Linked DNA regions of Homo sapiens: regions 1, 2, 3, 4, 5 and 6 are each linked to region 7. The links come from fine-mapping of genetic effects on gene expression. A gene starts in region 7. Each other region holds a variant in brackets. All regions are shown on one strand. Distances are from middle to middle.

Region 1 (4,176 bases), 41 kb after region 7:
GATGGGAAGGGGCTGAGGAGTCAGAGGAGGAACGTGGAAGAGCTGGAGAGTTAGGGGAGGAGCACGGAGGAGCTGAGGAGTCAGGAGAGGAGCACCGAGGAGATGGGGAGGATCTGGGAAGTCGGGAGGAGCACAGAGGACACAGGGAGTCAGGGGAGGAGCATGGAGGAGATGGGGAAGAGCTGGGGAGTCAGGGGAGGCTCACGGAGAAGATGGGGAGTCAGGAGAAGAGCACAGAGGAGGTGGGGAAGAGCTGGGGAGTCAGGGGAGGAGCAGGGGAGTCGGGAGGAGCAGGGAGGAGGTGCCATTAAATCAGGCCTTGCAGCCTGGGAGGAGTGTGACCCTCAAGGGAAAGGGAGTCAGGCCCAGGGGTTGGTGGTGGGACATGGCTGCTTCTGCTTGGCTGCAGAGTGGGCAGAGTAGATTGAAGGGAGCCAGCCAGGCAAAATTCCCCGGGACCTCAACCTTTGAGGACACAACAGCACCACAGAAAATAAGCCGAATTGGCAAAATGTAAAAAGACCCCGCCCCCATCACCGTGCAAGGCTCTGGGAAGTGGAGAGAAATCAACAGCCTCTCAAAGTGCCTCAATGGCAGTTGCCGGGCTGGAAAGCCCCATGTCATCAAGCCTTTACCCTCCACACAGTGGAGGCAGCACTGGTTCCTTCCTGCAATCGACAAATACGTTTGAACAAATAGATGAAGAATATCAGTTGGAAGGTACCCAATTATAAACCTTCCTGGATACCTGCTGTGAATCTGGCTCTTAGAGTGGGGCACGTGCACTGAGCTATGGGAAACCCCTTTGGTCCCCAAGCCGAGGGCCAGGAGGCACTGGATGGCCACCTGCCACTCATCTGCACTCCTGCAGTGAGGGGGCTGGGCAGGCCCTCCACGGCCTGTGCTGTGGAACTGAATGGACTGGGGGAGAAGCTGGATCCACTATGGGCCGTCCTGGCTGGCACCAGCGGCCCCTGGGGCAAGCCTGTTGCTCCCTGCAAGGCCTTCTCAGCAGCAGGGAATCTCCTCCCTCTTCAACAGTCTTTTCACTGGACTAGGACTCCTGCCACCCTTGGAAAGGCCAGGGAGGGGATTGTACACACAGCGCCTGGGATTTTTGATACTTAAAGGGGGCGAGACACTCCCCCCTCACCGTTCTTGGCAAATGCCTCCTGAATGAGGGATGCCTGCCTGCCAGCTCCCCACGCTGAGATCTCTGCTGACAATCGGGAACAGCCAGCGGGAGGCTAGAGATTGATGACTAAACCTCTTGGAAGTTTCAAGCCTCAGGTACGCCCTCGGTGTCAGAAAGGCCAAGAGAAGCAGCCTCGTTGGTTGCCTACGGAATACCTCCGGGTGCCAATGGGCGGGCCTTGCCCAGCTCAGACTCCCTCGGCTGTGGCTTTGCCCATCAAGTAGATCTGCTTGGAGTGAACTAGGGGCTGAAGGAAAATTGATATAAAAGTAATACATGTTCCTTGAAAACCTCTTAATAATAGAAAAATACACAGAAGGAGGGTAGAATCATCCATAATCCCGTCTGGCAGATAGAGCTCCTGAAGATGGCTTGCAGCTTTCTTTCCGGGCCTTCTGTCCATATCCTTGCATAACTATCCTTCCAAAATTGGGCACTGTGGGCACCATGGAGTCTGGGAGGACTGAAGTTAACTTACCTTCCATGGTTACTTGAAGGGTAACATTCTTGGCCACCCTTGGCTCTGCAGATGTCGAGCAGACAGGCCCTCATGCTGCGTGGGTGGGCAGGTGTACTGTCCACCTGCCCCTGGTGAGCCTGGGTGGGCCAAGAGGGGCGTCAGCACCACTGGCCACACCCAGCATCTTCTTTGCATCTGTCCTGACCCTTTTCCATCTGACCTCGTCTACATAACCTTCTTCCTTCTTGGACTCAGGCCTCCTCCATCCCTCCTCACTGCATTCTCCCTCCCGTGAAGGCTGATTCTTTCCCCAAATGGCATCTGCGTTTCCACGCCACCAGGTTTGCAATAAACATTCTGGGGCTAGGCTGTGTTGGGCGGGCAGGAGTTGGCAGTCTTCAAGAGGACAAGCCCAGTGCCCAGTTATTCTTCCCTTCCCCTGCCCTCTGCATCCCCTCCCTCCCTCCCTCCCTTCCTTCCTCCCTCCCTCCCTCCCTCCCTCTCTTTCTCTCTTTCCTTTCTTCCTTTTTGAGACAG[A/G]GATCTTGCTATGTTGCCCAGGCTGGTCTCGAACTCCTGGCCTCAAGTGATCCTCCTGCCTCAGCCTCCTGAGTAGGTGGAATTACAAGTGTGCACCTGGCTCCCCACACCATCTCTGAATCACATTCACTGGGTGCTGAAGTGCTAGGTTCCAGAATGGTCCTCGCCATCATCAGCATTCCACTTCATCCTCCCGGGATCCCAAGGCAGGCACTGCCATTAGCACCGCTGTGTACGTGTGGCCCAGCAAGTTTGCCCAACATTGTCCTCCCGCGCTGAGAGGGCACTGCCACAAGCACTCTGTGCTGGACGTTTGCCATGCAGCATTGTATCTAAGTCTCACAACAGCCTTGAGAAGGAAGCATTATGAGGCCCATTTCACATGTGTGCAAATGGAAGCCTGGGAGCCAAGTCAGCGCTGGCCACACAAAGGTGACGAGGCACAGTCCCAGCCCTGGGGGAGCTCATGGTCCACCAACGGCATTCTTCCTGACTCTAGGGGACTCTCCGACCACTTCTGCAAAGAAGCAGGACAGGGCTGGGTGCTCCCACTGCCATCTTCTTTCCCCACCTCCCTTTATTCATTTTCTAAACCATCAATCCCCAGAGCAGGTGCTGGACCTGCAGCCGGTGCCCATAAACACTCAGCTGATTTAAGGGGGAACAAGGTGGGTGCTGTGCTGGAAGAAGGGGGAGAGAAGAGTTGAGAAAAGGGCACGAGGAAGGTGGTCTCGAGGACTGGAGTGCTACCCCCATGCGGTCTTCACTCCAAAAGATGGCACAGTGTGGGGGGCCTACTTGGTGCCAACAGCCGGGCTACCTCCGAGACAAAGCCTGGCACCCGAGAGGAAGGGGAGCTACTGGCAGGGAACCCCATGCACTCTTGTCCCTTGGAGACCCCAGAAGATCTCAAAGAAAGGGGCAGAGCCACAGTCTTCCAAGGCTTCTGTAGGGTCTTTCGTGCATGAGAGAAAACTCAGGCACAACCTCTGTGAACAACCCCTACAGGGACTCAGGGGCTGGGAGAGACACCAACTGCCACCCCTTGGAGGTTGTGCCCAGAGGTGGGGGCTGAAGACCCACTGGCTCTTTGAAGTGGAATTTTCAAAAAATTTCTTTATACTGAAGTTCACAAATCTGTAATCTCGCCTGGGATAATGGGGTAGGGGTCAGGGCAGGAGAGGATCCTAGTTCTTGAGACTCCATCGGGCTTTGTCTGCCACTGGCGGGCACTCTCGGGAGGATTTGAATGGTGAATGGGCCAAGGGGATGGAGGCCTCAAACGGACTTGACTTCCGCCCACCTGCAGAAGGAGGCTGATGGCTCTGATGGCTCTATAATAACAAGCCTTTCTCCTGTCCAAAAACCTGCAGGAATGACTGTGGGGAAATGACAGCATTTCCCCCAGCTCCTTACCCCATCCTCTACCTTCCGTCCGGCTTGTGTACTGTCATCTGGAAGGAGGAAAAGATGTGATGTGATGTCTTTATTAACATCACCTTTGGGAGAAGCGGGGGAAGCCCGGGGTGCTGGGAGGAACTAACTTGGCCACACAGAACCCGAGTGGAGGGGCTCTAAGGGCACCGGAAGGCAAGGTGGTCTTACAGCAGTGTCAGACCTAGGGAGCGGACGGATGTGCTGCCGGTGTGAGTGTCTGTGGAGAAAGGACTCTGTTCCCTCATTTGCTGAGGTTCACCCACCTGGGTCATGGTACTCGACCCCCTCTTCCCATCTCCAGGAAGTCTCTGTCCCAGACACCATCTTTATTTTTTTTATTTTTATTTTTTGAGACGGAGTTTCTCTTGTAGCCCAGGCTGGAGTGCAATGGCGCGATCCCGGCTTACTGCAACCTCTGCCTCCTGGGTTCAAGTGATTCTCCTGCCTCAGCCTCCTGAGTAGCTGGGATTACAGGCACCAGCCACTACACCCAGCTAATTTTTGTATTTTTAGTAGAGATGGGGTTTTACCACTTTTGGCCAGGCTG
Region 2 (4,176 bases), 210 kb after region 7:
AGTGCAGTGGTGGGATCTCAGCTCACTGCAAGCTTTGTCTCCCAGGTTCAAATGATTCTCCTGCCTCAGTCTCCTGAGTAGCTGGAATTACAGGCATGTGCCACCAGACCCACCTAGTTTTTGTATTTTTAGTAGAGATGGAGTTTCACCATGTCGGCCAGGCTGGTCTTGAACTCCTGGCTTCATGTGATCCTCCTGCCTTGGCCTCCCAAAGTCCTGGGATTACAGGCGTGAGCCACGGTGCCTGGCCTGGGATGGTTAAGTTTATGTGTTAATGTGGCCGGGTCACAGACTGCCCCGGTATTTGGCTAAGCATTATTTCTGGGTGTGTCTGTTGTGGGTGTTTCAGGCTGAGCTCAGCACTGGAATCAGTGGCCTCAGTGAAGTTGACTGCCCTCTCCAGTGCGAGTGGGTGTCAGCTGATCCGTTGAAGAACTGAGTAGAAGAGAAAGGCAGAGGAAGGGCCGGGCACGATGGTTCATACCTGTAATCCCAGCACTTTCAGAGGCTGGTGGATCACCTGAGGTCAGGAGTTCAAGACCAGCTTGGTCAACATGGCGAAACCCTGTCTCTACTAAAAGTACAAAAATTAGCCAGGCGCGATGGTGGGCGCCTGTATTCCCAGCTACTTGGGAGGCTGAGGCAGGAGAATTGCTTGAGCCCGGGAGGCAGAGGTTGCAGTGAGCCAAGATAGCACCACTGCACTCCAGCCTGGGCGACAGAGAGAGACTATCTCAAAAAAAAAAAAAAAAAAAAAAAAAAAAAAAAAAGAAAGAAAGGCAGAGGAAGGAAGGATTATAAACTGCGTGTTTGCATACCCCCCACATTCATATGTTGAAGGCCTGATCCCAGGGTGATGGTATTAGGGGGTGGGGACTTTGGGGTGATTAGGTCATGAGGGTGGAACCCTTGTCCCGGGATTAGTGACCTCACAAAAAGAGATGGGAGAGCCCTCTTGCTCTCTCTCTAGCATGTGAGGACACAGAAAGGTGTCATTTGTGAACCGGGAAATGGGCCCTTGCCGGGAACCAAATTGGCTGGTACCATGACGTTGGACTCCCTAGCCTCTAGAATGGTGAGAAATAAATATTTATCATCTTAGCCACCCAGTCTGCGGTATTTTGTTCTGGCAGCTGGAGCTGACTAATGCAGGCAGAACATCCCAAGTGTCTGAGGTTAGCAACTGTTGACATGTAGAGGTAGACGTGAATGCCACAGACATGGAGGGTGGAGGGCAGGGTCCATTATGGTTAGTTTCATGTGTCAGCTTCACCAGGGAACGGCACCAGGTTATTAAACACTAATCTAGGCGTTTCTGCGAAGGTATTTGGTAGATGTAGTTAACACATACAATCAGTTGGCTTTAAGTAAAGGAAATTATACTTGATAATGTGGGTGGATCTCATCCAATCAGCAGAGGGCCTTAAGAGCAAAACCTGAGGTTACCTGAAGAAGAAATTTGGCCACAAGATTGAAGCATTAACTCCTGCCTGACCTTGCAGTCTGTTGGCCTGCCCTGCAGGTTTCAGACTCCATACTTCCAATGCATTTGGAAGTTCGCACCATCAGTACACCTGCCCAAGATTCCAGCCTGCTGGCCTATCCTATAAATTTTGTACTTGCCAACCCCCACAAGCATATGGGCCAATTCCTTAAAATAAATCTCTGTGCCATGGTGAGCAGGTCTATGCAAACCTATCCCCAAAGGCCAAGGGAGCTGAGAGGCTGAAGAAAGAGGCTGACAAATCCAATTTCTCAGAAAGAAACATTTAATAGGGCCTTATGAACAGAAGTGATGTCTCAGATGGCTGAGAGACAGTGGATTCCTGCACCCACCCTCCAGAAAATATCCCTCCTATAGCAAGCTTTTAGGGTAAAACATGTGCAGCTGGTCATGCCTCAGACTTTCTTGCAAAACTCTTGTCCACTGGGGAGGTTAGACGGTATCTTTATGAGCGGCTATCTATGCTATGGGCATTGTTTAAAGGCCTTGCTGTGGAACACCTTGGTCTGCAGGAGTCAAACATTATCATCATGGTGGTTTTGCTACAATCTCTCTCTCTCTGTCAATGTATAGATGTTTATATCTCTAATTAGTTCTATTTCTTTGGGGACACCAAAAGCATCTGCTACAGTCCACCCCTTGCACTGCTCAGATCCTCTTGGGCCTCATGTTAGGTTTGTTTTATCTGTCACTGATTCTTCAAGGTGGTGGCTGGTC[C/T]TAGTTCTTTTAAAACAAACAGAAACTTAAAAAAGGAGGCTTTCCAAAGGCTCCATCCTGCTTCCTCATCTACCATGGGTACTTCCAGCACCATGGAATGTGCCAGATCACTGGCCCACATAGCAGAGCCACTTAATCCACAGCCTAAACCTGCTGTAGACTCCTCTCTTACTCTGGGACCCACTCAAACTGGCAGCCATTTGCCCCACCCAGTAAATGTGCTAGAACACTATTCCCAGATGTGGGATGTCTCCAGATTCTAGGAAGGCCTGTCAAGTATTGTGCCTCTATCTTTTTTTTTTTTTTTTTTTTTTTTTTTCAAGGCACAACAGGTAGTTCTTGAACTGGCAGCTTCACTGATGTGCCAGGCCCCTGACTCTTTGTGGGGTTTATTTCCCACCCCTCCTGCACTTGATAATTCTGTGGTACTCCAGGCATGTGGAGTAGACAATAATAAAGCAGATTCTGGTGAGCAGAGGAAGCCCTGGAGGAATGAAAGGCCTTGGAAGTTGGCCAGTGTACACCACAGGGGTATGGGTGAGGGGATATGGTTGGAGCATTGACATCACCTGCCACAGACATCTGGCCTCTCCTACAATCAATGGGCTCTGGTTTAGGTCTACAGAGCAGGTGAGAGACCACAAGTCTCCATTGCAGTGGCTGACAGCAGGCTTCTGCACACCTGCTCTTGGTCTTTTTGGTTTTAGAATTTGAGCAGTACCCTCATCGGCTGCCCATCTGGCCTGTCCTCAGGAGTGCAGTGGTCTATTAGCCCTCCCCACAGGTCTCTGTGGGTCAAAGCCCCCTGTTTGCCATTCCATCCTTGCTGCCTGCTGTTAATACATCATCTCCTACTTCTGATGGTTAAGTGCTGCCAGCTGGCCCCTGTGATTCCAGAATCCAAGCATTTCCACAGATGCTGGAGAACCTGGTTCCATCACAGCACCCCTACCATCCACCCTGGCCTATGGTGGGCCACCACTACTGAACCTCTCAGGAACGAAGCACTCCTCTCATTATCGCTTTAGTTAAGGCTGGTTCTTTCATCTTACATAATTAATCTAGTCTAGTGGGCTCCCCTCTGGGAGCCTTGTAACCCATTCCTAGACTCTCCACCAAGCCAGTTCCCACATCTCCTCCCCAGTTTTTCCTAAGCCTCAAGCAGCAGTCCCAGTGGGTTATTAAGACCATCTCTGAGTGTCCGTACCATGATGTTAGATCCCAAGTCATGGGACGGTGCTCCACATTGATAAACTCTCCTTTATCCAGCATTACGCTTACCCCCTCCTGGCCCAATGCCTTCATTATATGCTCCTAGACATGTCCTCCTTGTTCATGTTGGTTCATTCTGCCAGGTCCTACACCACCACAGTGAGATAGCCCTCTCCTCCCAGAGCAGGTCGGTGCTTCCCAGTTGAACCCCTGAGCCTTGGGCTTCACTATCAGTCTAGAAGCCGTGAGGGGAGGGGGCAACTACTGATAAGGGCAAGCATCATTGCACAAGGCACCTGAGTCAAATGAGGCTCTGCGTGGTCTCCCTGGAGAAGGGGGCAAAGAGGAGGGCACTACCTCTGCTGGCCCCAAAAGCTCAGGAGCATATGCAGGATTAAGTTCCTCCCTCCCACGTGCCCCAACTCTAGGTTTCTAGGACCCACTTCTTCCTTATCATGGCCTTGGCTTCAGCATAGGAAGCTTGCTGGGGCCATGAATCCAGCCTCTGTAACTCTGCTCCTCCACCATCAGATTCTTAGCCTGATTTTCAACACAGTCTGCCCCTGGCTGTGCAGGGTAAGGATAGCTCTAATGCTGTTCTGGAGGACACCTAACTTTTGCACCTTGTCCTGAGTAGCTAGATGGCTGGCCTGAGCCTGTCATCTTTTTCCTTCAGAATTTTGATAGCAGCTAGTGACAGTTAGCAATCCTTATATTGTCATTGCCATATGGCCCTCTGGAGC
Region 3 (4,176 bases), 140 kb after region 7:
AGATGGAGCAAGGAGGGGTCCAGGCAGCTTCTCACATCCTCTGCCTCCCTGCAGGTTAGCCCATTGGTGATAGGACCTTGCCTCTGCAAATTGCCCCCTTACACATGAGCCAAGGTGTACTGGCTTAGAGTTTACCTGGTGCCTTTTGAGTTTTCAGCTTCCTCTGATGGGGCTGTTATGAGGCTTCACAAATGGGACACTAGGTTCTTTGCCAGGTCTGTGTTGCTGATGACCTTGTACCCCTCATTCTTCCTTTGTACTCCCCAGATCTTCATCTAGAAGGGAACGCAGGTCCCAGGTCCAGCGTGGTCACTGGCTAGTTGGGAGAAGTCGGGCAGCCAATCTCTTTCTGAGCCTCCTTGGCTCATCTCTAAGGGCACCAGGAAGTACCAGAGCCCAGGTGTTAAGTTCACAGGCTCTGACTGCTGGGGGCACAATCCTGGCTTGCTGAGTTCCTTGGGCAAGTACTTGGCCCCTCTCTATGACTCAGTTTCCTTATCTATATAATGGAAATAATCATTAGTACCTACCTCATAGGGTCATTGCAGGATGTCCAGCAATACTGCATGCAGACAGCCCAGTACCTGCTTCCAGGTGAGCTCCGTTAGGGAGCCAGTGCTTTCCTGGACAGCAGAGAACTGGGCTTTGCTATGACTTCAGGGGCCAGGTACCGAGCTCTGAACGTCACTGTAGCACCCCTCAGAGCTCGCTAAGAGAGGCCGTGGAAGTGTGACCCATGGAAGGGCATTGCATTCCTTTAGCGAGTCAGAGTTCACCAAATAAGGGTCATGTGGCTTTAGCTCCTCTTATCAAATCCTCAGAGATACAGCAGTCCACGGGCTTCTAAAAAATGAACTTGCAGTTGCCTTTCAAAACCTAGAGGCGTGGGAGAACACAGGGGGCCTGAGGGAATGGCTGTGCAGGGCGTGTGATAGCACTGGCCACTGAGGGCCTGTGGCGCGGGGGATCCTGCGAGGGCTTGGGCCTCCCTGGGGCGGCACGGCACTGCTGTGGCGAACCCCGGCCTCCTCTCTCTAGCTGGAAGATGGACCTAGTGATTGATATAGTTTGGATGCTGGTTCCCTCCAAGTCTTCTGTTGAAATGTGATCCCCAGTGTTGGAGGTGGGGCCTGGTGGGAGGTGTTTGAATCTGGGAGTGGATCCCTCATGAATGGCTTGGGCCATCCCCTTGATGATGAGTGGGTTCTCGCTCTGAGTTCACCTGCGATGTGGGCATTTAAAGGTGTGTGGCACGTCCCCCCCCACTCTCTCTCTCTTGCTCCCGTTCTTGCTATGTGAAGTGCCTCCTCCTCCTTTGCCTTGCGCCATGATTAGAAGCTCCCTGAGGCCTCTCCAGAAGCAGATGCTGCTATGCTTCCTGTACAGCCTGCAGAACCATGAGCCAATGACATCTCTTTTCTTCTAAATTACCCAGTCTCGGATATTTCTTTATAGCAACGCAAGAACAACTTAGTACAGTGACTCCTGGCTGGAAGCCGTTGCCCATGCCTTTGCCTGCACCTGACACCCGTAAGCCGAGTCCTCTGGAGGGGTGGGTGGCTGCTGTGGATTGTTCTGGGGTCACTGACCCGGCATGGGCCCCGCACCAGGAAATAGCCGAGAAGCAGGGTCCGTGGGGGCACTGG[G/A]ATGGCTGAGTAAAGCCTGAACAGTGTCTTTCAAGGGCAGGCTCAGCATATCTGAAGATCCTCCCTGAGGGAATTTGGAAATCTTTCTTCAGAATGGAGCGTGGGCTTGCTGGGAAAGGAGCATCCCCTCCCCTCAGGGCCCTGTATTTAGGCCCAGTTCCCACTGGCTGTGTGGTCTTGGGAAGGCCTCGTCCTGTCTCAGGGTCACAGTTTCCTCTTCTAGAAAACAGGGAGAACAGGAATGCCCACTGCCCAGGGTTGCGGGAAGGTCAATGGGATAACGTGGACAGAAACACCTGACATGGTCTGTACTTTACAATTCACCTCTCCTCCCTTCCTCCTCACTTCCCTGTCCTCCCTCAGGGCACCCAGGCTGCGCCCATGGCCATTTCCCAGCCCACTGCATACTGGGAGGCCAAGATGGCGGTGCCATTTGGGAGATCATCTCTAAGGCTGTACGAAGGGTACCTGACCTCCTCTTGCCATGCTAGGTCACCAGACATTTTTCATTCACTCAAACAATGAAATGACAGGGACCCCCTTTCTCTCAGAGCCCCTGCCAGTGCCTTCAGGGAGGGACACTGCCTCTCTGCCTCAGCCAGGCCATGGGCACCTCAGCTGCTGGGTCTGCATCCCAGGAGGTTTGGCAGCTCTTCCTGTGGATGGGGCAAGGCTGGAGTGGCCAGGGGAGTGGCCCGGCCGTACCAAGGCTGCTGTGTGTTCCAAAAGCCATATCCTCTGTTGGGGTGACCTTTCCTATCTCCGTAACCTAAGAGTCCAGGTCGCCCAGCCTGGAGCCACAGAGGGTTCTTTGCCAGCAACTCCTTGCTGGCGGTGGCAGGACAGTCTCAGGTCCCCATGTCCTGGTGCTCAGGTTAGTCTCCTCAGTTCTCCCAGTCCCTGGAAACACAAGCCAGCTGGAATTTTCCATCCACTTGAGTTTGCTTTTGAATTATTACATGTCATTCACAAGTGCAATAAAACACGTGGGTTTTCTTTCTTTTTTTGAGACAGTGTCTCGCACTGTTGCCCAGGCTGGAGTGCAGTGGCGTGATCTCGGCTCACTGCAAGCTCCGCCTCCTGGGTTCACGCCATTCTCCTGCCTCAGCCTCCTGAGTAGCTGGGACTACAGGTACCCGCCACCACGCCTGGCTAATTTTTTGTATTTTTAGTAGAGATGGGGTTTCACCGTATTAGCCAGGATGGTCTCGATCTCCTGACCTGGTGATCCGCCCACCTCAGCCTCCCAAAGTGCTGGGATTACAAGCGTGAGCCGCTGCGCCTGCCCAATACGTGAGTTTTCTAACACAGCCTTGTTTCTAATTTTCGTTTTCTTCCTGTGGAACAAACATGATGAGGTATCGTGCACTAGTCAGACGAGATTCAATTCCCAGCCCAGCCCTGCCCTTCCTGGCTGTGTGGCCTCAGAAAATTCATTGCCTTTCCTGAGGCTCAGCTTTCTCCTTGACAAATTAGGGCTAATAATGCCTGCTGAGGATGAACCTGAAATGACAAGTGTGAAAAGCTCACATTGCACCTGGCACAGAGGTGCACATAAACACTCGGGACATGTCAGACAGTGAATGGCTGAGCAGCCCACCCAATTGCAACTTGTCCTCTGCATGGAGGAAGCAAGAAACAGGAGGAAGCAAGAAGTGTGGGTCTGACGCAGAGTCAGTGAAGCCCTGCAGACAGAGCCAGGCACGTGCTTGGGTGGCGAGGGGCAGGACACGCAAGTGAGGATTGTCATCCGAGGTCAGATACAGGCATGAGTCCAGCTCAGAGTGCAGAGCACCCTGGAGCACGACTCAGAGACTGGTCTGCAAGCTCTGGCCCTTTGCTTCCTTGCTTTTTGGCTTGAGGTCAGCCACTTAATGGGTGTGTCCTTTTCTATGAATGAGGCCATTTCTAATGGCTGCCCACGGGGCAGGAGTGGGGACCCAAGAGCCACGGGGAGATGATGTGTGAGCTCCTCATGCCTGGAACTCAAGTTTTGCCCAGTTGGCTCACACTCAGGGTCTGAAGCCCATCTAGCTGGGGGTCTCTCGAGGTAGGTAAGGACTGGTGAGGCAAGAACAAAGGCCCCTGGCTGAGGAGGTGAGTGGGGCTGAAGTCTGGCTCCTGCTGTGCTGGCTGGCAGTGCATCCTGAATTGGGGCTGTGTCTGTCCAGAGATGGGGCACCATATTCTAGGTTAACACAGGCCATGTCTGTTTGCCGAGCTGTGTGCTCATGGTGTCTCCACAGACAGGGCTGTGTCTTTTCGTGGGCATAATAGGGACCATCAGTGGCCTGAGGCCTGATCTTCTCTCCTTCAGTCTCCAGGGGCACTGTTTAGCTGCCCTGTGCACATAGGGCCCTGGCTTATGCTCCATCTTTCACCCTATTCTGCCACTTAGGTATGGGGAGGAAGCTTAATACCATCACCATTCAGGGAAAGTAAATCTTCCCAAAAGAGTCTCTTTTCTGATTGTAAAAGTAATACATACTTATTGTAGAAAATTATGAAAACACAAGTAAGTCTAAACAAG
Region 4 (4,176 bases), 76 kb before region 7:
TCCTTCCCGTCTCATGGAGGTGGAGACAGGCTCTGCACGAGGGAGCATTCCTCTCTCAAAATGGCCTCACTGCTCTTTGAGCCCAGGGCTGGCTTGGTGGCTGGCTGCAGCCCGGCCAGGCTCACCCTACGATCGCGTCACACTGAGCCTCAAGGCACTCACAGTCCAGACACATGGTGGGCCAGACCTGGCTCTGGCTGAACTAAGCCAATTGACTACAATGAGGCGAGAAAGTGGTTTAACCTGCGCTGCTCTGAAGACGCAGTTCATTGAAAGCCAAGAATACACAAGGGGGCTTGATTCTTGGAACCACTAAAATGTTTTGCCATCCACCATCACATCAGTTTCCCTCTCCTCCTGCCATGCCCTTACGATATGGGAGACGTGGAGAAAGCACGTATGCAGAAAACGAGAGGGAAGAAGAGCGCATGCTGACTTGAGCATTCAGATCTCACTGCCTTCTAACGGTGTGACTTTGGGTTGCTTACGCCTGTGGGCCTCAGTTTCCTAATCTGTAAAATGGGCAAAACGAACAACAAACAATACCTACCTCACGGATTGCTGTGAAGCTTGAACAAAATAACGCATGCAAAGTTATTAACTCGGTACCTTCCATGCAGAAGCTGCCCAGATGAGACAGGAGAATATTATTATAAATAACCTTTCACCCAGGCTGACACAAGCAATAAGATGAGCTGGGGGAAGGAAAAAATGAACACAGCCCTGTTCAATTTGGGGGCTGAAATGTGTTCTGTGACCACCTGGGGTGTGAGAACTGAGCTCCTCGGGAGCTGCCCTGGGGCTGTGCCCTTCCTCCAGCTCCGCCACTCCTGGGCACCCTGCCTGTCCCTTTCTGCCCCACCTGATGCCTTGAAGCTGTAGCAGGCACCCAGCCACACCTGTGAGATGAACCGCTCACCCCTGTGCGTCCTCCACTGCCTGCCTCAGATGCTTCCCGGCTAAACTTACAAGCTGGGCTGCAGGTACGGGCTTCAGCCAAACCTGGGCCTTGCCAGGGCTGGTCCCCCTGCCACTCCTGTTAGGCAGCTTTGGAGCTTGGAGTCTGTTTGTTGAAGGTGTGGGCATCTCCTGTCATGACGTGGGCTTGGGACTCTCCACGTGAACCCCAGGCCTGTTCCACAGCCTCTGAGGCTCTGTGCTCTGGGGTCACGGCACAGGGATACAGGCTGGCTGGGATGCTGTGAATGCTCACAGAGGGGGGACCTGAAAATGCCCTCCCTTTTAGAGTGACCCCCAAAAACAGGCTTAGAAATCTCTAAGTTCATGTCTTAAACGCAGACTTCAAATGTATATTTTGCATTTACATGGCCTAAAAAAGTACTGCTTTTTCTTTTTCCCAGTTGGACAATCAGCTACTTTGGTCTGATGGTTTCCTTAGTGGGGTCCAGAGTTCTCAGGAAACAGTGAGGGGACACCGGGTCCTGGGGCCTGCACTGGCTGGTGCTGCAAATGGCCCAGGTTACCTTGGTCCCCCTTGGCATTAACGATCCCAGATGCTCCACAGCCCTTTGCAGGACTCAGGGATACTCCCAGCCCCAGCCTGCTCCACAGGGACTCACAGTCTGGTGGGGAAGCAAAGAAGCCCACAGACAAACTTTAAAGGGCAGGACCCAGGGGAGGGGCAGTCTGCTTGAACAGGGCGGGGGACAGGCTGGGTTCAGGGAGGCAGCAGAGGCATGGAAAGCTGAGACCTGAGCTAAAAGGAAGTGAAGGGGAGGTCCGGGTCCAGGGAGCACCTTGGAATCCACTGAGCACCCTGCTGAGGACCAGGGTGGCCACGCCACCACAGGCAAGGCCCTCTGCAGGCCCTCAAAGGCCATGACCCTCGTCCCCTCCTGCCCACCTGTGCCAGGAGAAGGAGGGCATCGAGGTGGGTAGGGAGGGCCTCCCTAATGAAGTGATGTGTGGAAGTAAGCCAGGACGGAGGAAAGAATATACCCCACACAGGAAATGCTTACCCAGCAACAAAAGAAAACCTGAAATCAACAAAACTACTCCATTGCGACAGGTACAGCTCTGTTTGGAGCTGAGGATTCTGGGGGCTTCTGGGCCCAGACCCCTGTCCCTCAGCTACCCTGGGGCCGGCTGGAGGAGCTAGAGGTTGGGTGGACGGGAGCAAGCACCTCCCATCATCTGGCAAAACCTCCTAAGGGGACCCACGCGGCGCCACTTCCTCTGGCCTCAAGTTCCCTGCAGCCTCTTCGAAAGC[G/A]AAAGAAACCTGGATTTTCTTATGTTTAAATTTAGTCCTGGATGGGATTTTAAAAAAACTGAACGTGCAACTGAAAATACACAATCAAAACCTTGTCTTTGCATGCTAATCTTTAGAGTCCAAGGAGAACACGAACTTCCAGAAATCAAAATGAGAAACTTTAACGTTTATTTTTTAAAAAACTGAATCTGGGCTTGATTTTATAGTGCCCAGAATTTTTCTTTATTCCTTATTCATTCAGAAAAACAAAAAGGCATCTTGAGGCCAACTGTTACCTGGAAACATTTTTTAGAGACAGAGCAAATATAAGCACTTAAAATTTTTTTTTAATATAAAGGCCCGGTAATCTCCACACACTAGAGATGCGACGTATTTCTCCTGTTACTGGTTACTGGTTTAACCCAGCCAACGGCAGCCCCACTTAGGACGTGAATGTTCTAGCCACAAAGAGGAACCCGTGGATGCTGGAAAGAAAGGGGGAAGCCCGGGAGGAGGAGTCAGATGCGATTTTATGCTTTATTCTTCTGCCGTTTCAGATTATTCAGCACAGCCTCCCTGCAAATGACCACTTGACCTTTCCCAGAAGAGCCGTTAACCTTCCATAGTCTGTCGGGTAAACAGCTTAATTTTCTGAGAGCGGCATGACAGAAGAAATTACAAAGCCAATTCCCACTCTGGGGTCCAAACAGATGCCAAATGTAAATCACTCCATTTCCAGGAGAGGGACAGTCTGCCCCGGCGCCTCCACCCGCTGCTCCTGCCTCCTTGGTGGGCACCGCTCAGCCTGTGCCCCTGTGTCCCGCAGTGCAGGATGGACCTCACCAGCAGTGACCCACAGCCGAGGACGGCATGGTGATGGCAGCTCTCGGGGGGTCCTCAGGCTGTCCTGAGAAGCTGGGACCTAGTCCCTAAAACCGCCGGTTCCTTTCTCTGGTTTTTAAACACCCAGAACCCCCATCAGCAGAGACGCCACTAATCTCCTACTTTAAAAAAACCCTTGTCTACTATGACATTTGCTGCGGTATTACAAAGCTGAAAGCGACTGCTTCCGGTTTTTTTTTTTCTTTTTCAACAATATACCTGTTCTGACTATTATTATCCATGATCTGGAATAGTGGTTTTTAATAATTATGAGACAACTTTTTTTCTTTTCTTTTTTGTAGAGACGGAATCTTACTATGCTGCCCAGGCTGGTCTCGAACCTCTGAGCTCAAGCCATCCTCTCATCTCAGCCTCCCAAAGTGCTGGGATTATAGGCGTGTGCCACGAAGCTCAGCATGAGACATCTTTAAAGAAAAAAGTGTTAACATTAACGAATTACAGCAGAGCTTCTTCATTATGCTTGTTCTCTAGTGAGGTGTTGGTGACTCAAAGGCCTAATGGGTCAGCCCGGGTAAATGAGTTAAGAGGCCAGGTTCTGTGGCTTGCTCCATAGCAGCGACCTAAATTGCAATGGGTGTAAGTTTAAAAAGGGACTACAAGGGTTAATTTAATATGTCAACTTGGCTGGGCCACGGTGCCCAGATATGTGGTCAAACATTATTCTGGATGTTTCTGTGAAGGTGTTTTTGGATGAGATTAACATTTAAATCGGTGAACTAGGAGGAGAGTACATTCCCTTCCGCAATGTGGGTGGACCACATCCAACCAGTTGCAGGCTTTACAAGAACAAAGACTGACCTTCCCCGAGCAAGAATCCCACCAGCACACAGCCTTACGACTCTGCTGCGCGCATTCCTGAGTCCCTAGCCTGCCAGCCCTGCCCTGCAGATTTTGGACTCGCCAAGCCTCCACAATCTCTCTACATATCTATATCCTGTAGCTTCGGGCTTCTCTGAGGAACCCTGACTACATACAGGACACATTTTATTTATATGAGAAACATACTAGAAATTTTTTGTCACTAAAAAAATCTTTTCATTTCTTGAAACATCTTTCACTTGTCC
Region 5 (4,164 bases), 23 kb after region 7:
CTGAGGGTAGCCAGCTGTTTTCAGTGGTCCCTGGGAGCCAGCTGGAGACAGGTGGTCCTGTAAAAGCTTTATTCCTAATGTGGGCACATTCCACTCCCATGAGTCTTCAAAAACTTTTTTTTTGAATATATTTTTTTCAGTTGATACATAATAGAACAACGTTTATGAACCTGCCGTTTGCTTTGTAACGTAACTAAATAATGTAATGGCATCTATATTCAGTTGAAGTGTTTTGATGTGCATGTGTACTTCCTAAGGTGAAATGCATCTATATACAGACAGCCTCTAAATCAAGTCCTTCAGTATAATTGATATATGTTTTTATAATTTCCTCACTGGTATAAGTGTTTCATATTTGAAAAAGTTATCTCTGGGTATTGCATAAAAGGCTTCATCTTATAAAGTGAAATCATTGTTATTGAATTTTAGGAAGGATTAATGGTTAAGTGTATATAAAATACTAATATTAAGTAAACTTCATATTGGCCAACACCAGGGTTGTATTCTATGGATGTCATTATTTTGAATTAAGAATTAGTGTTTAACATTCCTAAATTGTTTTGAGTGCTTGATTATAATTTGTAAAAAATGTTTATTTTCAATACTTCTTTAAATTTAAAATAAAGCTTATATTTCAAATGTCTGTTTTGTGATGATTATTCACCTTAAAAGGAAGAAGCTGAGGCAAAATTAATATAGAATGTTTAGGTGGGCCAAGGTTGGGGACTGCAGCTCGGGACACACTTCCAGGTTGCCCTGGAGAGTGCTCCAGAGAACACTTCTTAAAGAAAAAAGGATAGATCAGCTGCTCTTATACCCTCTACTGACACAAGGTGAAGGGGTGATTACAAAAGTTGTTTATCAGGAATTCTCATTGGCTTACAGAACTAACCTTGGTTAGTGATTGGCTATATGCTGTTGAACTACAGGGTATATGGCATTTGATAGATACTTGGCTTCAAGAGGTAATTATGTAGCTTGGGAGAGAGTGACCTGACTATGATTTCATTCTATTGCCTCTCTGGGCCTGATAATTTAGTTTTTATTTTTTGAGATGGAGTCTCTCTCTGTCGCCCAGGCTGCAGTGCAGTGGCACGATCTCAGCTCACTGCAACCTCCACCTCCTGGGCTCACATGATTCTCCTGTCTCGGCCTCCCGAATAGCTGGGATTACAGGTGTGCACCACCACACCCAGCTAATTTTAGTATTTTTAGTAAAGATAGGGTTTCATTAAGTTGACCAGGCTGGTCTTGAACTTCTGGCCTCAGGCGATCCCCCCAACTTGGCCTCCTAAAGTGCTGGGATTACAGGCATCAGCCCCTGTGCCTGGCCTGGGCCTGATAATTTAAAGGGGCTCACGTTCTTCAGTTACAAGATTTCTTTATTCCCCATGTCACTATGCTATTACTGCAGTGTTATCAGTTACATTTTTTTTTTTTTTTGAGATGGAGTCTTGCTCTGTTGCCCAGGCTGGAGTGCAGTGGCGCAATCTCGGCTCACTGCAAGCTCCGTGTCCTGTGTTCACGCCATTCTCCTGCCTCAGCCTCCCCAGTAGCTAGGACTATAGATGCCCGCCACCACGCCCGGCTAATTTTTTGTATTTTTAGTAGAGATGGGGTTTCACTGTGTTAGCCAGGATGGTCTTGATCTCCTGACTTTGTGATCCACCTGCCTCGGCCTCCCAAAGTGCTGGGATTACAGGCGTGAGCCACTGCGCCCAGCCTATCAGTTACATTTTTAAGCTTTTTGAGATTTATTTATTCCATGTGTTTTCTTTTTTTTGTATTCCTTTTTTTTTTTTGAGACAGAGTCTTGCTCTGTTGCCTAGGCTGGAATGCAATGGCGTGATCTCAGCTCACTGCAACCTC[C/T]GCCTCCCAGGTTCAAATGATTCTTGTGCCTCAGCCTCCCAAGTAGCTGGGACAATAGGCCTACACCACCATGCCCAGCTAATTTTTGTATTTTTAGTACAGATGGGGTTTCACCATGTTGGTCAGGCTGGTCTCGAACTCCTGACCTCAGGTGATCCACCCACCTCGGCCTCCTAAAGTGCTGGGATTACAGGTATGAGCCACTGTGCCCGGCATATTCCATGTGTTTTCTAACAGCATTTCAACTCTGATCTACAGAAAACTAGAAGTTATAAAAAGAATACATCTAAAAGATAGGTCTCATACTTCCCTTTCAAAGTAGCGCGTTCTCTGTGCATATACTAATATTTATCATTTTTTTAAAGTTATCCTTTTTATATGTGGTGTTCTGCAACTTTTTCTTTTTTCTTTCTTTCTTTTTTTTTTTTTTTACCTGAACAGAGTATTTTGGATGTTTTTCCGTCTTATTCTCAAATAATTAGTATTTCATCATATATGGGTATACTGTAATTTCATCTCATATTGGGACCATTTGACTTGAATAAAACTTGTGACCACTTCATATCTTTTCACAATGGTGCAAAAGTGCACAGTGTTTCTATGGAGTAAATCCCTAGAAGTGACTTGCTTTTCAAAGAAAAAAAACTCAAGTTAATTGTGTCACATTGCTCCCTGCCTCCCCCAGGTTCTAAAAAGTTACCTCTTAGCAGTATGAGAGTTGAGTCTTTGGTACTCTGTCAGGGTAGTGCTCTGTCACTGAATGACTACGTTTAAATGAGTGAGCAGTTACTGGGAGGCCTCCTCATACCAATTACAACTGGGGTGGCACCCAGGCCAGGTAAGCTCTCCAGGGCATTCAAGGTTGAGAACCTGTCTTAGGAATCTTATTAAGATGCAGATTTTTGTTTTGGAGACATAGTCTCACTGTCACCTAGGTTGGAGTGAAGTGGTATGATCTCGGTTCACTGCAACTTCCACCTCCCAGGCTCAAGCGATTCTCCCACTTCAACCTCTCTACTAGCTAGGACCATGGCCGTGTGCCACCAGATTTGGCTAATTGGTTTGTATTTTTGGTAGAGACAGGGTTTTGCCATGTTTCCCAGGGTGGTCTTGAACTCCTTAGCTCAAGTGGTCCACCTGCCTTGGACTCCCAAAGTGCTGGGATTATAGGTGTGAACCACAGTGCCCAGCCTTAAGATGCAGATTCTAATTCAGTCTCTCTCTGTGTGTGTGTACTGGAGATTCCACATTTGCAGGTTGCCTTAGGACATACTATTATTATGATGAGTCAGTTTAATTTGCATTCAGTTATTCTCACCAGAGATGACCTTAGGGCAGGTGATTTTTAACAAAGCTATCTTCCTGCTAAATTCTTTGAAGGCTTTAAAAGTCAGAGAGGACCCAGAGGTAGGAAAGTACAGGGAGTTGTGGAGACGGTGGCCAATGACAATGAGGGCCTTTGGGCTTAATTTGGTGAGCAGTGGGGTCACTGAAGAAAGGGGTTGAAGCAGGGGCGTGGCGTGATCCTATTAGAAAATCCTAGGCTGGGTGCGGTGGCTCATGCCTGTAATCCCAGCACTTTGGGAGGCTGAGGTGGGCGAATCACCTGAGGTCGGGAGTTTGAGACCAGCCTGACCAACGTGGAGAAACCCCATCTCCACTAAAAATACAAAAAATTAGCCAGGCGTGGTGGTGCATTCCTGTAATCCCAGCTACTCGGGAGGCTGAGGCAGGAGAATCACTTGAACCTAGAAGGCAGAGGTTGCAGTGATCAGAGATTGCACCATTGCGCTCCAGCCTGGGCAACAGAGCGAAACTCTGTCTCAAAAAGGAACAAACAAAAGAAAATCCTTTCTGGCTGATGGTTTAGGGCTTACTCATGCAGTACACACTGGTTGTAGGGCCTCAGGGCCTATGTCCAGTGGTGAACAGGTGGGCAGGAACCTGCTGACGGCACTTAGTGCCCTGGGGATGAAGTGGAGGGGTGGTGAAGCGGGAGGCAGGGAGAGTCAGACACAGGCTTTGGATTTGGGGTAGAACATCAGGGCAACTGCTGTGGTTAGATACTCCCTTTCCTTAGCTGTGAGGAAGTGGGATGCTATCTACCTTTCAGGGGAGTTAGGAGGATTAAAAAAGATGGAGTAGGTCAAGCTCCTGGTGGAGGACCTGGCACAGAATTACAGATCAATAAATAAGTTGCTAGCTCCCCCTCCCCACCCCCAACACATACAGTTGGAGGAGTTTGGGAGAGAGGAAGCTTCGGGAGAAGGATTCTTTCAGATAAGGGTGACATCT
Region 6 (4,109 bases), 49 kb after region 7:
GCAGGGGAACTGCCCTTCACAAAACCGTCAGATCTTGAGACTTATTCACTATCAAGAGAAGAGCACAGGAAAAACCCGCCCCCCACGATTCAATTACCTCCCACTGGGTCCCTCCCACGACACGTGGGGATTATGGGAGCTACAATTCAAGTCGAGATTTGGGTGGGGACACAGCCAAACCATATCAGACATTAACCCTTAATTACTGCAAAGACCCTATCTCCAAATAGGTCACATTCACAAGTACCGGGGTCAGGACTTGACACATCTTTCTGTGGGACATGATTCAACCCCCATCACCCTCTCTGCTTTTCCATCTTCCCTGTGCTTCCTGGGCTGCCTCCCAAATAAACTACCTGCATCCAAGTTCTTAGCTCTGGTTGTCTTCGGGGGAACCCGAACTAAGACAGAGGGCAAAGATTCCAAAGAAAACAAAGAAGAGGGAGCAAAGCCCAGGGATGAGGAGAGTTAGGAATCAAGTTTCCTTTGGCCATTGGTGAAGAAACAAGTTCAAGTTTGGGGGGACTTCCAGGAGATGGAGGAGCAAGGAGGAGCTGGAGAGCCTCAAGCAGAAAGGAGCTTCCATTTTCAGAATCTGGGGTAGAGGAAGCAGGGAGTGGGGAGAGCTGGGGAAGCTCTGGCTTGGGCTGGGGCCACATCTGTGAGGAGGTGAGCAGAGAGAGGTGGAGCTAGTCCTGAGCCTGGGGACCTGGGTAGGGAAGCCCAGACCTTCAGGTTGGGTCACGTACCCCAGCTGATTCTGGCTGTGGCTGGGGAAACTGAGGCCCAGAAACGGCCTTGGCTCACAGCAGGGACTGGAATCCTCATCTTGATACTTCCCGTTTTCGCTTTGCCCCCCGCTGCACTGAGGGGCTTCCCTGGCAGGGGTGTCAGTATGCGGGCAGGTCTGTCGAGGCTCTGCTTACCAAGTCCACCTGTGCTTGGACCCTGGTGGAGAAGGACAAACCCTATGGTCAAGCACTGACAGTCTCCCCTGGTTTGGGAACATCCACGTGGACTCCGTTTTCTGTTGTGTGCGCAGTTTGATGAGGAAGCGTCTGCTTGCCTCTGATTCCTTCCACAGCCTATACAATTTCCGTCAGGTTTATTAATATAAGAGGGCAGCATCCTGTGTGCACAGATGACTTGTTATATTCACAGCTCTTGGGATGCTCCCTGCCCCGCAGCCTCGAACCCTCGATCCTGTCAAAGCCTGGAGCCCTTGGCTGCCCTGCCTGGCCAGTGTGGCTCCTTTCCCTGAGCTGTGATTTCAGCCTGGCCCTGGCCAGTGGCAGAGTCCATGGGCACATGGGGTGATTTGGTGGTGGGCAGCGGCCTCCACCTGAATAGGGCTGGTTTTGTCAGAAAACACCTTAAAATCACTCTCCGAGAAGAAAATATGTTTGATTTGGGGGCAGCAGGAAGAGTCTGGTGTCGTTTACAGTAGTTATATAGTTTTCAGCTCCTACTCTTTAAACCCTCTGCAGGAAGTAGAACAGAATTATCTGAAGCCTCTTTTCTGTTCTGCAAGAGTAGAATTTGTAATCATTTTGCCCGGACCAAAGCAGACACTTCTGTGAAATCCGCAGAGTTCACAGTTGTGGATGGAATTGCTCCCAAATGAATGGGTGTTTGAGCCACTCTATGAGTTCATTGTGGCTTCCATGGCAAATTACCACAAAGTTGGTGATGTAACACAACACAGATTAATTATCTTATAGCTCTGGAGGTCAGAAGTCCAAATCTGTCTCACCGGACTAACATCAAGGTATCAGAGGGCTGGTTCCTTCTAGAGGCTCGAGGAGACAGTCTGTTTCCTGCCTTTTCCAGCTTCCAGAGGCTGCCCTGGCCTTGGCCCCTGGCCTCTTCCTGTGTCCTCAAAGAGCATCTCTCTGGCCTCTGCTCCTGTGGTCGTATCTCCTTCTCTGCCTCTGAGCCCCAACTCTTCTCTCTTATAAGGACCCCTGTGATCACATTGGGCCCCTGAATAATAATCCAGGATAATCTTCCATGTCAAGATCCTTAATGTAATCACACCTGTGAAGTCCCTTTTACCATATAAGGACACTGTATTAGTCTGGTCTCATGCTGCTAATAAAGACATACCTGAAACTGGGTAATTTATAAAGGAAAGAGGCTTAATGGATTCACAGCTCCACGTGGTTGGGGAGGCCTCATGATCATGGCAGAAGGCAAATGAGGCGCAAAGGACACATCTTACATGACAGCCGACAAGAGAGCTTGTGCAGGGGAACTCCCCTTTATAAAACCATCAGATCTCATGAGACTTATTCACTATCACGAGAACAGCATGGGAAAGACCCA[C/T]CTCCATGATGCAGTTACCTCCCACCAGGTCCTTCCCAGGACATGTGGGAATTATGGGAGCTACAATTCAAGATGAGATTTGGGTGAGGACACAGCCGAACTATATCGGTCACATAGGCTCAGTTCCAGGCATTAGGACTGGGCATTTTTGGGGGCCATTATTTGGATACCACTGCCAGCAAAGCCCTTCCCCTGGCTCAGCCTCTCCAATCCCCCTCACTGCCCTGGGAAGTGGAGGGAAAGGGTCTGCGTCCCCATTTCATGGAGATGTCCAGAGGTTGTAAAGTGAGTGTCAGAGCTCAGTGGAACCAGGGTGTCCCTATTCCAAGTCCAAAGCTGTTTCTGCCAGCTCACACAAACCCACCCTGTCGACAGGCTCCTGCCCAGTGACCAGGCATGTGGTCACTGGCTGCCAATGAGGCCCATGTTTTAGACCTGGTGCCACTATCTGCCTAAGGTTGCACCGTCAGTAAGTTTCTTAACCTCCCTGTGTCTCAGCTTTCTATAGATATCAACATTCTTCTCTCATAGGTTATTTGTGAGGGAAAAACATAATTCTCTAAACCACTTAATAAATGTTGGATATGTAGTAGCTGTCACTGTTATTAATAACAATAGGGCAGGCTCATGCCTGTAATCCCAGCACTTTGGGAGGCCAAAGCAGGAGGACTGCTTGAGCCCAGGAGTTTGAGACCACCCTGGGCAACATAACTGGGTTGGAACTGCATCAACAGGAGGGCTCATCTCGCTACACTGGACCCTGGTTATGGCCACTTTGATGAGCAAAAACCAGGACAACAGATTAATTGCTCTGTGATGAAGTGCACAGGCTGATGGGAACAGCGGGGCAGTCTTGGGGAGCCCAAGATATTCCCAGGGTGCTTGGTGCTACTGGGGGCAGTGACTCAGGGACCTGGCCCCCAGTGCTTTAGTGTCTACTGTGGCTATGTTTGAAATTGATGTTGGTGTTGGTGGTGGGTGTCCCAGGCCTGGGAATCTGGTTCCAGTGTGTCTCCGCCCCCTCCCCACCTCTATGAAGGTGAAGGCCCCCCAGGGTTAAGCCCAACTGGCTGCGTTTTAACAGGGTTGGGGAGGGGCCATCCCTGCACCATGGGGTGAATGGCCCCTCAGTTCTCCTGCCTTTCTGGCCTTGATCACTGGGCCCTTGTGCTGACCTGACTCTGTGCCCTGATTGTCTGGGCAGCCAGCTCCTTCAACCAAGTGCTGTCCTGAGGTTGTCTCGGGTCCATAAATGCCTTGTTAAAATCGCTGGGAACAAGAATACTTTATGTTGCTGGCGACTCCAGCCCAGGCCGTTAAGTCTGTCCCGACACAGGCTGGGGCTCCCGCGGCCCAGCTCCGGGGCTTTGTGTAGTCCCGAGGCTAAGCCCTTTGCAAGCCCCTAATTAGGGCTCCCGTGTCTCTGCCCCAGGCTGTGGTCCTCGGGGAGACCTCCCCTGGCCCGGCCTGCTGGGCTTGGCCCTGGAGTCAAGCAGTGCTGTCTCGGGCTTCCAGGGCTGGGCGGGGGCTTCTGGTTTACACTGTTCAGTACCTTCCACCCCTTCCTGTGCAGATTTCCTCCGTCAGCCTCGTGTCCCTTGATTCCTGTCCTCGGAAGCGACATTCTCCCACTGGGTGCTGCTTTTCTCCCTGTTTCACCATCTTCCTTGGCCTCATTCCCAGCTCAAATAAAGCCCTAATTCCCAGTAAGGAGGGGCTTTGACCATGACACAGGGCAGGCCATGGAGGGCCTGGCAGGTGGGACTGGACTTCTGATGCCCTCA
Region 7 (4,103 bases):
AGTTAATCACATTGTATTGGGTGCTGTGGAGGAACATGAAAGAAATAAAAGGCAATGTTCTGCTCTCAGTGAGTTCTGGAGAGCCCATGGCCACAACAGTCTGAGAGAGTGACCTTGGTATAGGGCAGATGGAGCCCAGGGGGACTGAATCCCTTTTGGTGTCTTGCTCTGCACATCTGCAGATACTGGCTCTGCTGTTCACAGCTCTGCACCCATATCACTTTCTTATCCCTACCATTTAGCATGGACTTTACTTTCTGCTTAGCTAAGACTTATCTTAGCCAGTTATGTATGTTGGATGTCTTCCAATTGCTCCCCTACCCCGTCTCCACCCTTTTCCACCCTGCTGTTTGTCCCAGGAGGCTGAGCTGTCTTAAAGGGCTCCCCTGGCCTCTGGCCTCCTAATGGCTTCAGCCCATGTGGAAGCCTGACAGGAGATGCTCATTGTCCAGCTCCTTCCCATGCAGTTGCTGATGACTTTGGTGACCAGATAGCCTTTCCCACACTCCTCTCTTTGGGTTCTGGAATTCTGGAAACCCCACTTGGAGGCCGTTGGGCCTAGGATGGATAATGGCCCTCGCTGGTGCATGAGACCCAGGTTATTTCTCCATCCCTTGTGGTTTACTTGCCTACATTGATTGATTGATTGGTTGATTAAGATAGATGGTCTTGCTTTGTTGCCCAGGCTGGAGTGCAGTGGTGCAGTCATAGGTCACTGCAGCCTCAACCTCCTGGGCTCAAGTGATCCTCCCACCTCAGCCTTTGGAGTAGCTGGGAACATAGGTGTGCCACCACACCAGATTAATTTTTATTTTTTTTTGTGGAGACGGGGTCTCACTGTGTCGCCCAGGCTGGTCTGGAACTCCTGGGATCAAGCAATCCTCCTGCCTCGGTCTGCCAAAGTGCTGGGATTACAGGCATGAACCACGGGCCCCCACCACCACGTTTTAGGAAATGTTCACATTGGAGTGTGCCCTCTGTTTCCAGCTGGGCCCCCGACTGGTCATTGTGGTCTAATGGAGTGTGGTGCCGGCAGCTGCCAGCGCCTGCCCTCTGAGAGGGGTGGCGAGGGGCACACAGGACCAGACTGCCCCTACTGTTGGATGACTGGGTAAGTCGCTTTCCTTCTCTGGGTCTCTGTTTTCCAATATTTAACATCTTGTTGTGGGCTAAGTGAAGTCCAAGTCCCTTCCGATTCTAACATGAGGTTGTCCCGGAATATCTATTTTGTGTTCTGAATTTAATAACCGGCTGTGGAGGGCACCACAGGCAAATCTGTACTGTGAGTGGGTTGCTGCCACTCAATTATCTGACAGCAGCTGCGAACAGGTGGGCAGTGTGTTTTCCATAGGCAGCGACGACTTTTGGAGGTGGATTCAGAGGCACAACTAAGCCGCGCGGCGCATCAGGGTTCAAGGGCATGGGGCTCCCGCAGCTGTGGCTGGGGCAGAGCTGGGGCTGGTCCCTCCCTCCAGGAGCACAGGGCGGGCGGTCCAGCCTCACGTCTCTCGGCCTCCAGCCACACCCGGCCCGCGCAGTGGGGGGCCCAACAGACTTTTCCTTTTCGGGCCTCAGTCTTCTCGTCAGCAAGGGCGGACAAGGACTCTTCTCGTCCCGCCAGAGGAGGCGACCGAGGGGCCTGAGCTCAGGTACAGGCCGGCGGGCTCAGGAGGCGCGAGCGCGGATCGAATCCGCGGGAGGAGCAAAGATCCTTGATGCGCGGCCGGAGGGCGGGGCGGAGGACGGGACCCACGCGATTGGTATCCTGCCCTCCGCCCCAGCCAATGAGCGGCGAGGGTGTCTTGGGGGCGGGGCAGAATCAGCCTTTAAGTTGCAGTGACTCTCCGGCGTCACTGTTGCGCTTCATAGACGCCGCGTGTACCCGGTTGTCCTCAGGCGCTGTCAGGTACCGTCTGGGCGCCGCTGTCCTGGGGCTCTGGTTCGGGCCCTGGCCGGGGTTCCCTGACAGCGGCGGGGGAGGCGGGCGGGCGCGGGGTGGCCGCGGCCCGGGTTCGGGGGATGCTGGCTGAGGGGGCGCGCTGGGCCTCGGCCGGGGAACGAGCCCCGCTTCAGCGGCCCGTTTACTCTGCGGGCGGCTCGGACCCGGGCGCCCTGGAGTCTCCGGCCGGCGCGCAGCTTCAGGGGGCAGGGGCGTGGCGACCCACGGCTTGCAGGCCGGAGTCCTGGTTCCAGCCCAGAGCGGCCGACGGGCGGGCGGCAGGGAGAGGCTGAGGATGTGGCAGCCCCGCCTGCCAGACCGGGCGGAGCCGCCGCCCCCTGCGCTCGCGGCCTGTGGAGGCCAGGACTCGGCCCACCCGGCCCAGAGACCCCGAGGCGCCCCGGGGTTCCGGGTAGGAGGCCTTTGGGCACCCTTGGTTCCTGGGGTTGGCGGGGAGGCTGCGTTCTGGGGACGGGGGAGCTGTGCAGTAAACCGGTGGCCCTGGTCACGCGGCGGGGGCGCTGATGCAGCCTTGGAGGGCTGGGTCCTCCCGGCCTGCTCCTGCGCCCTGCAGATCGGCCTGCCCATCGCTCCCCTCTTCCAGCCTATGATTTTTTTTCTCCAGCCTCTGTCGAAATAAAGAAAATTACGGAAGCAGAACCTTCCTTACAGTAACGTGCAGGTTAATTAGATGGTGGGGGATGGGGGGGCAACAGGACTTTCAGCATGAAAACCTCCCGTTGGGGGCTTTTTGCAAACCCTGCTGAGCATCAGTAAATGGGCCTGGCCAGTGCGTTTCCTCGATCGCCTTCCCGGGCGGGACGGGAGGGGTCATTGTCCGCCCTTTGCTGGCGAGAGGACTGAGGCCCGAAGTCACCTGGGCACTCGCCCTGTGACCCACCGTCTCCTTTTGTCACTCTACATCTTACCTTTTCGGTGTTCAGTTTTACCTCTTAGATAAATTACGGTGATAAATTAAGGGCGAACAGACAGTGACTTTGGAATGAAGTGGCTTTACCTTAAGAAATGACTAATGTTCAGTTTCCAAATTCTAAATTTCTCCTTCTGGGATTGAAAGGGTTTCTGTGGATAAGCTAGTTCTTTCAGTTAACCCCGGAACTGTTCTTTAGATTGTAATCAATCGCTCTTAGCCATGTGAAATAACAATAGACTCCTTTCATTAGAATATCCTGGTTCTGTCTTTAGATGAATCTTTTCATAAAAACGAGCGTTAAATTAAAAAGCTTATTTTTAGCCCGGCACGGTGGCTCACACCTGTGTAATCCCAGTATTATGGGAGGCCCAGGCAGGCGGATCACCTGAGGCCAGGAGTTTGAGACTAGCCTGGCCAACATGGTGAAACCCTTTCTCTACTAAAAATACAAAAATTAGCCAGACATCGTGGTGCGCGCCTGTAATCCCAGCTACTCGGGAGGCTGAGGCAGGAGAATTGCTTGAACCCGGGAGGCAGAGCTTGCAGTGAGTTGAGATCGTGCCACTGCACTCCAGCCTGGGCGACAGACTCCGTCTCGAAAAAAAAAAAAAAAAAAAAAAAAGCTTATAGTTTTGGGTTTACAGTTTTTCATGGTGTTTAAGATTAGTTTTGCATCCCCCCCCCAAAGAAAAATCCAGTATAACTTTAAATAGTAAACATTTTTAAAAGACATTTTTCCCTCAAAGCAGCTGTCTTAATATGTATTATCCCCATAGCGTGCCTTTATTACAGTTATTTGTGTGCATATTTTATGCCCTTTAGTGAGTTCTTGAGGACCTTTCAAATCTCAAACATTTACAAATAGTGATGAATGCACGAATTTGGATGTGTGTGGAGGATGTGCTGTAGTTGACCCCGGTCCTTTCTCAGTAGTAAAACTAGTTGTTTGCCAATGATGCACTTGGCTTGAATTTTAGCCAGAATACTGATTACGTCAAAGAGACTTCTGTTGGTAGAACTTTTTTTTTTTTTTTTTTTTAAAGGCCTGTATTTGTGAATGGTTACCTCAGGAAAAGTAAATATTTGTCAAAATAGCAAGAACAAATTTACTCCTCAAGTTGAATATTTTAAGTGGCTTTTGGACAACTTTACGCCGACTATTCTTTTAGAGTAAGAAAATAGTTTTTAAGAGTATAGGCTAAATTAACTTCAAAATGCAGCCTTTTGTGG

Evidence for each region. PIP is the estimated chance that this variant, and not a neighbour inherited with it, causes the effect.
Region 1: its variant is fine-mapped to the expression of OAT in whole blood (TOPMed, PIP above 0.99).
Region 2: its variant is fine-mapped to the expression of OAT in whole blood (TOPMed, PIP above 0.99).
Region 3: its variant is fine-mapped to the expression of OAT in whole blood (INTERVAL, PIP above 0.99).
Region 4: its variant is fine-mapped to the expression of OAT in whole blood (TOPMed, PIP above 0.99).
Region 5: its variant is fine-mapped to the expression of OAT in lung (TOPMed, PIP 0.99). The same link has a PIP of 0.9 or more in whole blood.
Region 6: its variant is fine-mapped to the expression of OAT in blood mononuclear cells (TOPMed, PIP above 0.99).

Annotation. Positions count from the first base shown.
Region 1 is chr10:124,376,126-124,380,301 of GRCh38, reverse strand. No RefSeq gene overlaps it. Among named protein-coding and RNA genes, the nearest start is that of OAT, 41 kb to the left of the region's middle. RefSeq lists an enhancer at 269-986. The variant A/G (reference allele first, on the strand shown) is at 2,193.
Region 2 is chr10:124,209,088-124,213,263 of GRCh38, reverse strand. No RefSeq gene overlaps it. Among named protein-coding and RNA genes, the nearest start is that of CHST15, 120 kb to the right of the region's middle. The variant C/T (reference allele first, on the strand shown) is at 2,222.
Region 3 is chr10:124,279,296-124,283,471 of GRCh38, reverse strand. No RefSeq gene overlaps it. Among named protein-coding and RNA genes, the nearest start is that of OAT, 140 kb to the left of the region's middle. The variant G/A (reference allele first, on the strand shown) is at 1,647.
Region 4 is chr10:124,492,238-124,496,413 of GRCh38, reverse strand. All of the region lies in intron 3 of LHPP (phospholysine phosphohistidine inorganic pyrophosphate phosphatase), which reads right to left. Among named protein-coding and RNA genes, the nearest start is that of LHPP, 33 kb to the right of the region's middle. RefSeq lists enhancers at 1-58, 59-636, 637-1,214. The variant G/A (reference allele first, on the strand shown) is at 2,231.
Region 5 is chr10:124,393,782-124,397,945 of GRCh38, reverse strand. OAT (ornithine aminotransferase) reads left to right here. Exons shown (of 10, transcript NM_000274.4): 10 at 1-643. The coding sequence ends at 4. Among named protein-coding and RNA genes, the nearest start is that of OAT, 23 kb to the left of the region's middle. The variant C/T (reference allele first, on the strand shown) is at 1,870.
Region 6 is chr10:124,367,782-124,371,890 of GRCh38, reverse strand. No RefSeq gene overlaps it. Among named protein-coding and RNA genes, the nearest start is that of OAT, 49 kb to the left of the region's middle. The variant C/T (reference allele first, on the strand shown) is at 2,326.
Region 7 is chr10:124,416,676-124,420,778 of GRCh38, reverse strand. It overlaps OAT (ornithine aminotransferase), which reads left to right and starts at 1,856. Exons shown (of 10, transcript NM_000274.4): 1 at 1,856-1,906. RefSeq lists an enhancer at 667-1,181 and silencers at 1,155-1,814, 1,757-2,296.